3 linked regions of the Homo sapiens genome follow. The protein of the gene in region 3 interacts with the protein of the main gene of each other region in a pairwise test. Each region holds a gene or a part of one and is shown on either strand. Other genes may lie near its edges.

The links. Proteins that work in one complex are often made in the same cells at the same time.
Region 1: the proteins of NTRK1 (region 3) and SH2B2 interact in a two-hybrid assay, tested with the Homo sapiens proteins (one study listed by BioGRID).
Region 2: the proteins of NTRK1 (region 3) and TPTE interact in a two-hybrid assay, tested with the Homo sapiens proteins (one study listed by BioGRID and IntAct).

What each region holds. Positions count from the first base shown.
Region 1 is NC_000007.14:102,289,670-102,293,446, reverse strand, and holds part of SH2B2 (SH2B adapter protein 2), read right to left. Parts: intron 345-3,777; exon of another isoform or gene 260-344; intron 1-259. UniProt on the Homo sapiens protein: Adapter protein for several members of the tyrosine kinase receptor family. Involved in multiple signaling pathways. May be involved in coupling from immunoreceptor to Ras signaling. Acts as a negative regulator of cytokine signaling in collaboration with CBL.
Region 2 is NC_000021.9:10,603,702-10,606,295, reverse strand, and holds the end of TPTE (putative tyrosine-protein phosphatase TPTE), read right to left. Parts: intron 880-2,594; coding exon 744-879; 3' UTR 580-743; downstream 1-579.
Region 3 is NC_000001.11:156,867,365-156,870,864, reverse strand, and holds part of NTRK1 (high affinity nerve growth factor receptor isoform 2 precursor), read right to left. Parts: intron 2,762-3,500; coding exon 2,616-2,761; intron 2,361-2,615; coding exon 2,218-2,360; intron 1-2,217. UniProt on the Homo sapiens protein: Receptor tyrosine kinase involved in the development and the maturation of the central and peripheral nervous systems through regulation of proliferation, differentiation and survival of sympathetic and nervous neurons.

The sequences.
Region 1 (3,777 bases), on a different chromosome or scaffold from region 3:
TTCAGAGTGGTTTTTGGTGCTGGGGGATGGAGCGAGGAGGGCAGGGGAAGTCTAATGGAGTCCCTGCTCATCGCCTTTCCAGGCCACGGCCTCTCCTAACCCCACGACCAGCAACCCAGACAAGAGACCCCAGCCACCAGCCCGGCTAGACAGTAGGTCCAGCCGGCATGGGGGAGGGGGCGGCGGCTTTCCGGCGGTAAAAATAGCGCTGACAATTGGAGGACCAAAAAAAAAAAAAAAAAAAAAAAGCCGGTCTTCAGCCCCCGCCCGCGCAGCAATTCCGCACCCCAGGGCCGGGTCATTCCTTAAAATATTTATGAGTCGGACTCGCCGCCCCGCCTAATGGGCCCGCGACCAATCGATGCGCGGCACAGTGGGCGGTGGCCCTGGGGGCGGGGAGAGGCAGGAGCCCCGCCCACCTCCAGCTGGCACCCCCCACCTCCTCCCCAGCACCATCCCAGCCACAGGAGGCCAGGAGCACCGGGAAGAGGAGGGATGGTCAGTGGTCCCACAGGTCAAACTAGCTATGCAGCACCTCAAAAGGCTGCGCCCCACTGCCAAGAGACCCCCCCTTCCTCCTGCACCCTCACTTAGCTCCGTCCTCAGAGCAGCAGTCAGAGAACCAAGTGCATGAAGGGGGAGACGGTCAGAACTAAGGGTTCTCTCCTATGTCCTGGGGTGGGCAGTGCCACCTACCCCCCAATGAACCATTCGCTATGGGGAAACTGAGGCCTTTTCTTTTTAGACAAAGTCTCACTCTGTGGCCCAGGCTGGGGTGCAGTGCACTGCACTTTGAACATAGCTCACTGCAGCCTTGAACTCCTGGGCCCAAGCAATTCTCCTGCCTCAGCCTCCCAAGTGGCTGGGACTACAGGCACAAGACGCCATGGCCAGGTAATTTTTTTTTTTTTTTTTTGAGACGGAGTCTTGCTCTGTTGCCGAGGCTGGAGTGCAATGGCGTGATCTTGGCTCACTGCAACTTCCGCCTCCTGGGTTCAAGCGATTCTCCTGCCTCAGCCTCCCGAGTAGCTGGGACTATAGGTGCGTCCTACCAAGCCCGGCTAATTTTTGTATTTTTAGGAGAGGCAGGGTTTCACCATCTTGGCCAGGCTGGTCTCGAACTTCCGACCTCAGGTGATCCGCCCACCTCAGCTTCCCAAAGGGCTGGGATTATAGATGTGAGCCAGTGCACCCGGTCCCAGGTAATTTTTTGATATTTTGGTAGAGATGGGGGTCTCACTATGTTGCCCAGGCTGGTCTCATGCAGCCTCTTCTTGGGGTACCTCCTTGCCTGACACAAGAGACAAGGCCTCACTCTGCTCACCTCCACCATCCTCAGAAAACCTGCCCAGCCATGCCTTCTCATGTCCACTGCCCTTAGGGGTCCTCAGGACCTTAGCAGCACTGGCCTGGCCCACTCAGCCTCACTCTGGACAACATAGGCTCCTTCAATCCTGCTGTTCCTCAAGCACCCTCCTGGCCTCGGTGGGGCAGTCCCTTCCACCCCTGCAGCCTCCTCTCTGCACCCCTCCCTGGGCAGGACACAGATGCTCTTTGGGCAGGTCATCCCTCCGGCCTGGAGTGACTCCCACCCGCTGACTAGGTATGAGTCTCTCTCTCCCCTGCAGATTCAGGAACACAGCACACAGCGCAGTCTCTGCTTCACTGCTGAATACGTGGGCGTTGGTTTTCAAGCCCGTGTTACTGCTCACCTCCGCAGAGACCACATCCCCACAAGGTAGGCTCTGAACCAGGGCCTCCTGCCAGATGTGGCTGGAATTCCCCAACTCTCCCCTCCCAGAATATCTGAGCTCACTCCACCACCCCGGCAGAAGGCAAAGTAGGCATGGCTTCTGGTCTTAACTTAACCCTTGAACTTGCTGTGACTTTGCTGCAGAGTGGATGGGTGGGGGCCTTCTGGCTGGCGATGGGGACAGGTGTGGATTCAGAGCCCTTGGGACTTGTATGCCTCTGTATGGGTGATTAGGTACTAGTGGTCTTGGCTGTTCTGAGCATTAGTTTCCCTAGCTGCTCTTCCGTGCAGATAACTTTCTAGTCCAAGGCTCGGCCTGAGCAGCATCGCTTGGAGGCAGCTATTGCAACAGCCCTGCACCCAGGACAACCCCAGGCCTCTCATGCCACGCTCAGCCTTTGCCACCGCCACGGGAGGGTGGGAGCCCTTCTGCTGAGCCCCCCGGCTTTTGCAGACATCCCAAGCTTGACAAGCCCTGCTGGCACCGGCGTCTGCAGACCCTCAGTCCCAGGGGTTCCCACAGTTGCCTTTGACAGTTGTTCCCCAGCAAAGGGAGCCCCACTGCCTGGGCATCTCCCTATGGCCACCTCTGGTCATTTGACATGCTGGGACAGTGTTAAAAGTCTGAGATCTGGAGCCAGACTGTCTGGGTTTGGATCCCAGCTGCCTTGCTACCCAGTGAAATGACCCCTTGGACTCTGGAGCCTCAGTTTCCCCATCTGTTAAGATGGAGGTGACAGCAGTGCTAAACTTAAGGGGCTGTCATGAAGATTAAATAAGCAATTTGTTTAAAAATCACAGCTCTATTCATTCCCTTTTCCTCCAACTGCTCTTGGCAGGCAGCTGCAGAGGTACCCACTGCCCCAACACATAAACCCAGCCTCCAATGTGGCCAAGGTCAGCGTTCTAGAACCCACATTTCAGTGGGCCATGCCCCTGTTAAAACCCTTCTCCCCTCACATCTTCCCTGTAAGAAAGAGTTGTTTCTCCATTGCAGAGATGAAGAAATGGGGTTCTGGGGAGGGAGGTGACTACCCACCATGCTCTGGCCACCACGCAGTGGTGAGCTCCCACTGTGTGTCAGACGCCAGGTGGGAGGGTCCAGGGCTGCAGAATGGACAAGAGGGGAGGCCGGGTGCAGTGGCTCACACCTGTAATCCCAGCACTTTGGGAGGCCGAGGAGGGCGGATCACTTGAGGTCAGGAGTTTGAGACCAGTCTGGCCAACACGGTGAAACCCCATCTCTACTAAAAATACAAAAATTAGCCAGGCGTGGTGGTGCACACCTGTAACCCCAGCTACTCAGAAGGCTGAGGCATGAGAATTGCTTGAACCCCAGAGGTGGTGGAGGTTGCAGGGAGCGGAGGTTGCAGGGAGCTGAGGTTGCACGCCACTGCACTCCAGCCTGGTCGACAGAGCAAGACTCTGTCTCAAAAAAATAAAAAAAAAAAAGGGGGGTATGGAGCCAAGTTCCAGGCTGGTCCCTTTCTGAGACCTGTTTCTGGGGAACTCCGCTTCCAAGGGCAGAGTGGGAAGACTGAATCCCTGTTTCAGGAAAGGAAATGACCACCTTTAGAGGATGGGGCACTCTGAGCGGCTGGGTGGGGGGGCGGGGGAATCCACAGCTGGGCTCTGCAGGAAGTGCGGGTCAGATAAGCAGGGAGTGGGGGCCAGGACAACAAGCTAAGCCAGGGCCTGTGGGCTCAAGAGGCAGACTCAGCCTCCTTCAGGAGCACCCAGTGCTGGACAGTTCCTGGATGGGCTCTGCAGGTGGAGGACAGGCTGAGCTGGTTCCAGCTGCACTGGCCCTGGTTACTCCCACCCCACCCTGCCTTTCTGGGGTTGCAGAGCAGAGGTTCCCCCCTCCCATCTCCAGCCTTGGCCTGAGACACTCAGCCCCTTCCACTCCCCCAGTGTCATAACTCTCACATGGGCCCTGGCCCAGCCCCCTAAACCTGCAGGATACCCCCTTAGTGCCCCTCACCAACTCATCCCACCCAGCTGCCTTCTGGCTTTTCCAGGAC
Region 2 (2,594 bases), on a different chromosome or scaffold from region 3:
TGAATTTCAAAATAATACACCTAGATTACTCTAAGAATATTTCTTTTCACTTCACTTACAATTTTATACAAAAGCAGAAGTTATTAAAGATTACTTATCTTCATATTTACCACCATCTTCTTACCCCAACCTCCATGTCTGTGTGTAATTAAAGGAAGCTTGTCAAGTAAGCTACCTATTTAGTGCTCGGAATGAAAGGGAGTGTGTGTTGGGAGTTGGGGGACTGCTTGCGTGAAACATTTCTCTCTTCTGGATTTAAAACTTAGTCTTGGTTGCCAATCTGTTAACAGACAGTTTGTAAATGAAGGGGAAGAAAAATATATAAATTAGCTTTCTAATAAATCTGAAATTACAAATGTGAACCAAAGCAGGGAATAAATACTTGACCAAAAATATGTAAGTAAGTGGGTGTTGGGGAATCACAATTTTTGAATATCTCAAGTTTTTGCTTTGAAAGTTCTATTTCAAAGTTCTTCAAAATGATGCCTGATGTTCCTGCATACTGTGTTCCAAATTTAGGTAAATACAAGATGGAAACTGTGAAGTATGTACCTTCAAAAAAGAAGAAAGACACTGACATTTTATCTATATATATGTAATAGATTTATGAAGAACATATATAAACATATATAAACATAAATAAATACTTCAAGGAACATTTAGGATAGATTTAGGATATATGAACATGTGGCAGGGTTGGAAAGAACATAATTCTTTCCCAGAAGGGGAAGGGGGAGCTATACTTAATCGGATCCAGCTACAACATCACTGGAAGTCATTTTCTCGCCAAAAAGTATCTCCACGGCAAAATCTGATGGATAAATTCTCCGTGCTTTTTGTTTATGTAGATTATCCAATTCATTTTTTGGTAGATAAAGCCTAAGAATAGAAAAAAATTATTACATTTTATATTGGGGCTCACTGAAAAGCCACACAGTTGGGTACCCACGTTAGAGCTGGAAGAAACAAAAAAAGAACCTCACCATGAATAGAACCTCAGCCCTTTTTTTGTGTCTCAGTTGGCTCCTTCCACCTTTTTACTGAGACATAAAAATACTTTAATCTTCAGCAACACATCAGTAACACATGCTGACTCTCTTAGCATTGCTTTATATGGAATTAATGACATCCAAGTTTAATAAAATATCTAAATTTCTCTCTGTGACAGAAATCAGTCAGGATAGACATGAATGAAAGCCCAGTAATAAAATACTATATCTCTTTTAATTTATGTGTGAGGTTGCAATTTTTTGAATTTTTACAATCAGACCTTGGAAATGACCTTGAGCAGTAGGATATAACTCCCACATGCTGAGTGTTCCAATAATGGAACACTAGGCATAAATTGGTTAACCCATTTATGCCTCGTGTTCTCAATGATAGAAGTTAGCATTTTTAGCTAAACAACAATCTCATAACAAAAACAGCTTTACCAAGTAGGATGTAAATTTAAATGTTACAGAAATCTTTAGAAATTTATATAAAATAAGAATAAAAGTGACCTAGCTTATCACTTCTCCAAAATGAACATAGTGTTTTAAAGGAAAAAAAAAATGGTATCCTTTAGCAAGAACCACTTTTGAGGAGCAGCATCAAATGAAGCTCCACCCAGGTCTCACTTTTTGAGGGTCTTTGCTCATGTTAGAATAAAAAGCTTATTGTTTGTATGCATCCAAAAAAAAAAACTTGTAAAAAATTTCCATCAAATACAAAGTTGACTCTATCAAAATCCATTAAATGTTTTGCATTGCAAGTGTGCAGACCAGAGGTTTAATTTCCTGTTGCCTTGCTGGACTTAAGGAATCATTCGATCCAGTTCACATTTGAAGAAAAGATTAGGACTGGATGTAACAATAACTATCAATTCATGCCACATATAATCATAGCCACTTCTTCAACTCTGACCTAAATCATTTAAAAAATATTTTGTCCTTTTGTATTGAAGAGTATGGTTGACACAAAAAAAGTCTCAATTTTTCACCATCACAAAACAAATGCTACTTACAGTGGAGAACTTCTAGACTGAGAAATGAGTTTCCAAATATGGCAGAAGGTTTTTTTGGAACAATAATCTCCAAATCCAATTAATAATTTTTCAGAAAGGTTTCCCAATTCAGTTATTAGAAAGCCATATTTGAATGGCTATTTAAATAGACTATTACTTAATGATATTTCTTAGCTGTATTCCTTAATACTGTGTCTTGTGACTTCTCCTAGATATAAGTGTGTCAGTCAGCTTTTCAGCTAGCTGAAGCCTCCCTAGGTCCTGCCTTCCTTTAGCACAAAAGTTGATGGTGGTTCATCATTGGTAAATCAACACCTACTGACAGGGACCTGACATATTGAAGGTGCTGAGCAGCCTCATATTGAACTTCTCTGGGAGGAATTTACTACCACACTTAAGATCTGATGATAATACTTTTGAACTCGTAACACAGTCCTATGGCATGGACCCTGAGGATACTGCAACAGTGGGTCTCAAGAACAAATGGATTTTTAAAATAACCAAAGTAAGAAGAGTAAGGCAAGGAACAATGGTGGTTCAAGGATTTTTTGCTTTCTATAAATTAAGTTTATGACAACCAGCAAAAGAC
Region 3 (3,500 bases):
TTTGTCATGTGTAAGTTACATGATCTTACGACAATTCTTCATCTTGCTGAACTGTGGGTTTTTTGTTTGTTTTGTAAGCTGAAGAGGTGGACAAATTATCTTCTGACATTTTAGAAAGTGATTTTCACAAAATGAAAATAATGAAGTGGTGGATAAATCTCATTTATCCGAAAACTTTATAAATGTGGAATCCTCTGACCACATGCCAGAGGAGGTATGGTTTCCCCAGGCTTCCATTGGAATATGTGAGTTCAAAGGTTCCAGTAGAGTTTCCAGCCTTTTGTGCAAGCTCTGGGTTCCAGCCACTTCGAGGGGAAGCCCTGCCCTGCCCTCTGCTTCCCTTGGCTGTCCCATCCCCTCCAACTACTGTGGGGCCAATAACTCTTCCCCTTGAGCTGGTCTGCCACCCCTTATCCTCCTAACTGAGGGAGAGCAGCCTCTCTTCTCCTCCATTTAACCCATTTAGGGTGCAATTTTTTTTAAGAGATAGGGTCTTGCTTTGTTGCCCAGGCTGGTCTCAAACTGCTGGTCTCAAGTGATTATCCCTCCTTGGCCTCCCAAAGTGCTGGGATTACAGGTATGGGCCACTGTGCCCAGTAGGGAGTGACTTTTGTATAGGTAGTTTCTAGAAAACACAGATGGTAGCAAACATGTAAGTCTCCCAAAGAGAAAGCAAATCCTGGAATCACCCCAAACAGAGTTGATCTAAGGTCTCTCCATGCAGGGGTATGGCCTCTGCCTGGTCCCCTTTCTTTTACTCACTCTAGGCAGCTTTGCTCTCTGGAGCAGGGAGGAACTGCTCAGTGGCTAGTTGTCCCTCCACCATGTCTGAAGCCCCCTGCTCAGCGCCCCAGTGGCATCTCCCTCAACATGGTTCCAGGGGCCTCCAGCAATTCTGGGGTGGACTCTCCCACCAAAGTGAAGGCTCCCCAAATAAACACCATGCTCCCAGCCCCCCAGGCACACATTCCTGGTCCCTGCATATCCACTCCTCCTGCCCAGGTGGAGCCAGCTTTTTGGGTGGGCACAGCCCATTGTCAGCTGCCGTTGACCTCGTCAACAAGGCCGACTGAGTTACCTGTGGCTACTCTCATCGGCCCATCGCCAGCCTAAGGACAAAGGGTAAGGCCTGGGAAGATGTCCAAAGGCATGTATGGATAACAGAGATAGAGGCCAGAGAACGCCCAGGGGCAGGCAGGACATCAGAAGGCCATCATGTCCACCTTCTCAGCTTACAGATAAGAAAACCAAAGTGCAGGCAGATTAAGGGATTTTTCTGAAAGTCATTCCCAGAATTAATTAGTGAGAGAGCTGGAGCCAGACCTATGCCTCCCTTACTAATACGTTCATCACATGCCCAAGAGGATGCTGCTTCCAGAATCTCCAGAAAAAAGACCACGATACCCCCGAGAACTCATCCCGGATGCAGTACAACTGATATTGTGCCTCCTCCCTGGGTTCCAGTTTCCTTATATAGAAAAGTGATCTGCCGGGCACAGTGGCTCACACCTGTAATCCCAGCACTTTGGGAGGCCGAGGTGGGTGGATCACGAGGTCAGGAGTTTGAGACCAGCGTGGCCAACGTAGTGAAACCCTGTCTCTACTAAAAATACAAAAATTAGCTGGGCATGGTGGCGCGTGCCTGTACTCCCAGCTACTCGGGAGGCTGAGGCAGGAGAATCGCAGAATCGCTTGAACCCGAGAGGCGGAGGTTGCGGTGAGTCAAGATCGCGCCACTGCACTCCAGCCTGGGCAACAGAGCGAAACTCCATAAAAGGAAGGAAGGAAGGAAGGAAGGAAGGAAGGAAGGAAGGAAGGAAGGAAGGAAGGAAGGAAGGAAGGAAGGGAGAGAGAAAAGTGATGTACGGGAGGGATGGTCTGTTGGGTTCCTCTCAGCTCCAACATGTAAGGTTTCTGTGACCCTCTCCCTTGCAGCCAACACCATGTTCCCAGAAAGGGGTTCTAAGTCCTGGGGCTTCAAGTATAGCCTGGGGTCCCTGCTGGGTCAGTGCCCACCCTGAGGGTGTGTGCGTGCCCTGGGCTGCCCCAGAGCATAGGCCTGAGCCCTGTGGGTCTAAACCATCTCTGTCCGTCCCTCAACCTCAGTGTGCTCCTTATTCGTTGTCTCTTTCCTCCACAGTGTGTCTCTCTTTCCCCATCTTTGTCCCCTGTGCTCTGCCTGGACCTCTTGGGGGCTGCCAGCGAAGGTCTTCTCACCATCACCGTGGCTGACTGCTCCAGCTCTGTGAGGATCCAGCCGGCCTGCTCCAGGCCCCGCCCCTCCACCTGGCACCGCAGCAGCACGTCGTCCCCCACATCCACCGAGGCATTGGGCACCTGGACCTTCAGCGTGGGCACACCTGGCCACCCAGGACGCCCGAGGGCCAAGGGGTGTTAGAGCTGGGAGTGGCCCCAGAACTCTACTGCGGGGCTGCTCCTTCCCCCACCCTCCTCAATGACCTGGAGCCCAGGCGATGTCACCCCAGGCAGTTTCCCCCAGCCTTTGCCAGTGCCCATTCCCCAGGCCTTTTCAGTGCTTGCTCAGTGCCCTCTCCCTCAGGCAGGTAGGTCTCTTCCCCAGCCCCCTTACACCACCTCCCTCACCCGGCACCTACCACAGCTGGCATTGGGCATGTGGGCCAGGGGCCCTTGCCCATGACACTGCAGCTTCTGTTCAGGCACTCCGCCCAGTCCCTCCTCCTCCCAGCGCTGTAGCCAGCGCAGGGCACAAGAACAGTGCAGAGGGTTCCCCGACAGGACCCTGGGGGGCATGGGGGACACCAACAGAGTCAAGGAAAGGGCCTGAGGGATCACAGGGGATAAGAGGGAGCAGTTAGGCAGCAGGGAGGACCGTCTACAGGTGAAAGGGAGGACACAGAGGTCTTTCTCTCTGACTCCAGTAACAGGATGTTATTCAAAGAAATAGGCCATTGGGAGGCCGAGGCGGGCGGATCACAAGGTCAGAAGATCGAGACCATCCTGGCTAACACAGTGAAACCCCGTCTCTACTAAAAATGCAAAAACTTAGCCAGGCATGGTGGCGGGCACCTGTAGTCCCACCTACTCAGGAGGCTGAGGCAGGAGAATGGCGTGAACCCAGGAGGCGGAGCTTGCAGTGAGCCGAGATGAGATTGTGCCACTGCACTCCAGCCTGGGTGACAGAGCGAGACTCCGTCTCATAAAAAAAAAAAAAGAAAAGAAAAGAAAAGAAAGAAAGAAAAGAAAAGAAATAAGCCAGGCGCTGTGACTCACACCTGTTATCCCGGCACTTTGGGAGGCCGAGGCGGAGGATGGCTTGAGCCCAGGAGTTCAAGATCAGCCTGGGCAACATGGCAAAACCCCAACTCTACAAAAAGAAAAAATAACGTAAAAATGAAAGAAATCTAATGCAGAAAGTGGAAGACAAGACAGCTGACGTCTGAGGGATGCATGGGGCTCCCTCACCCCAGGCTCCCCAGGATGAGAAACCAGGCAAGGGCTCTCAGCATGGTGACAAGGAG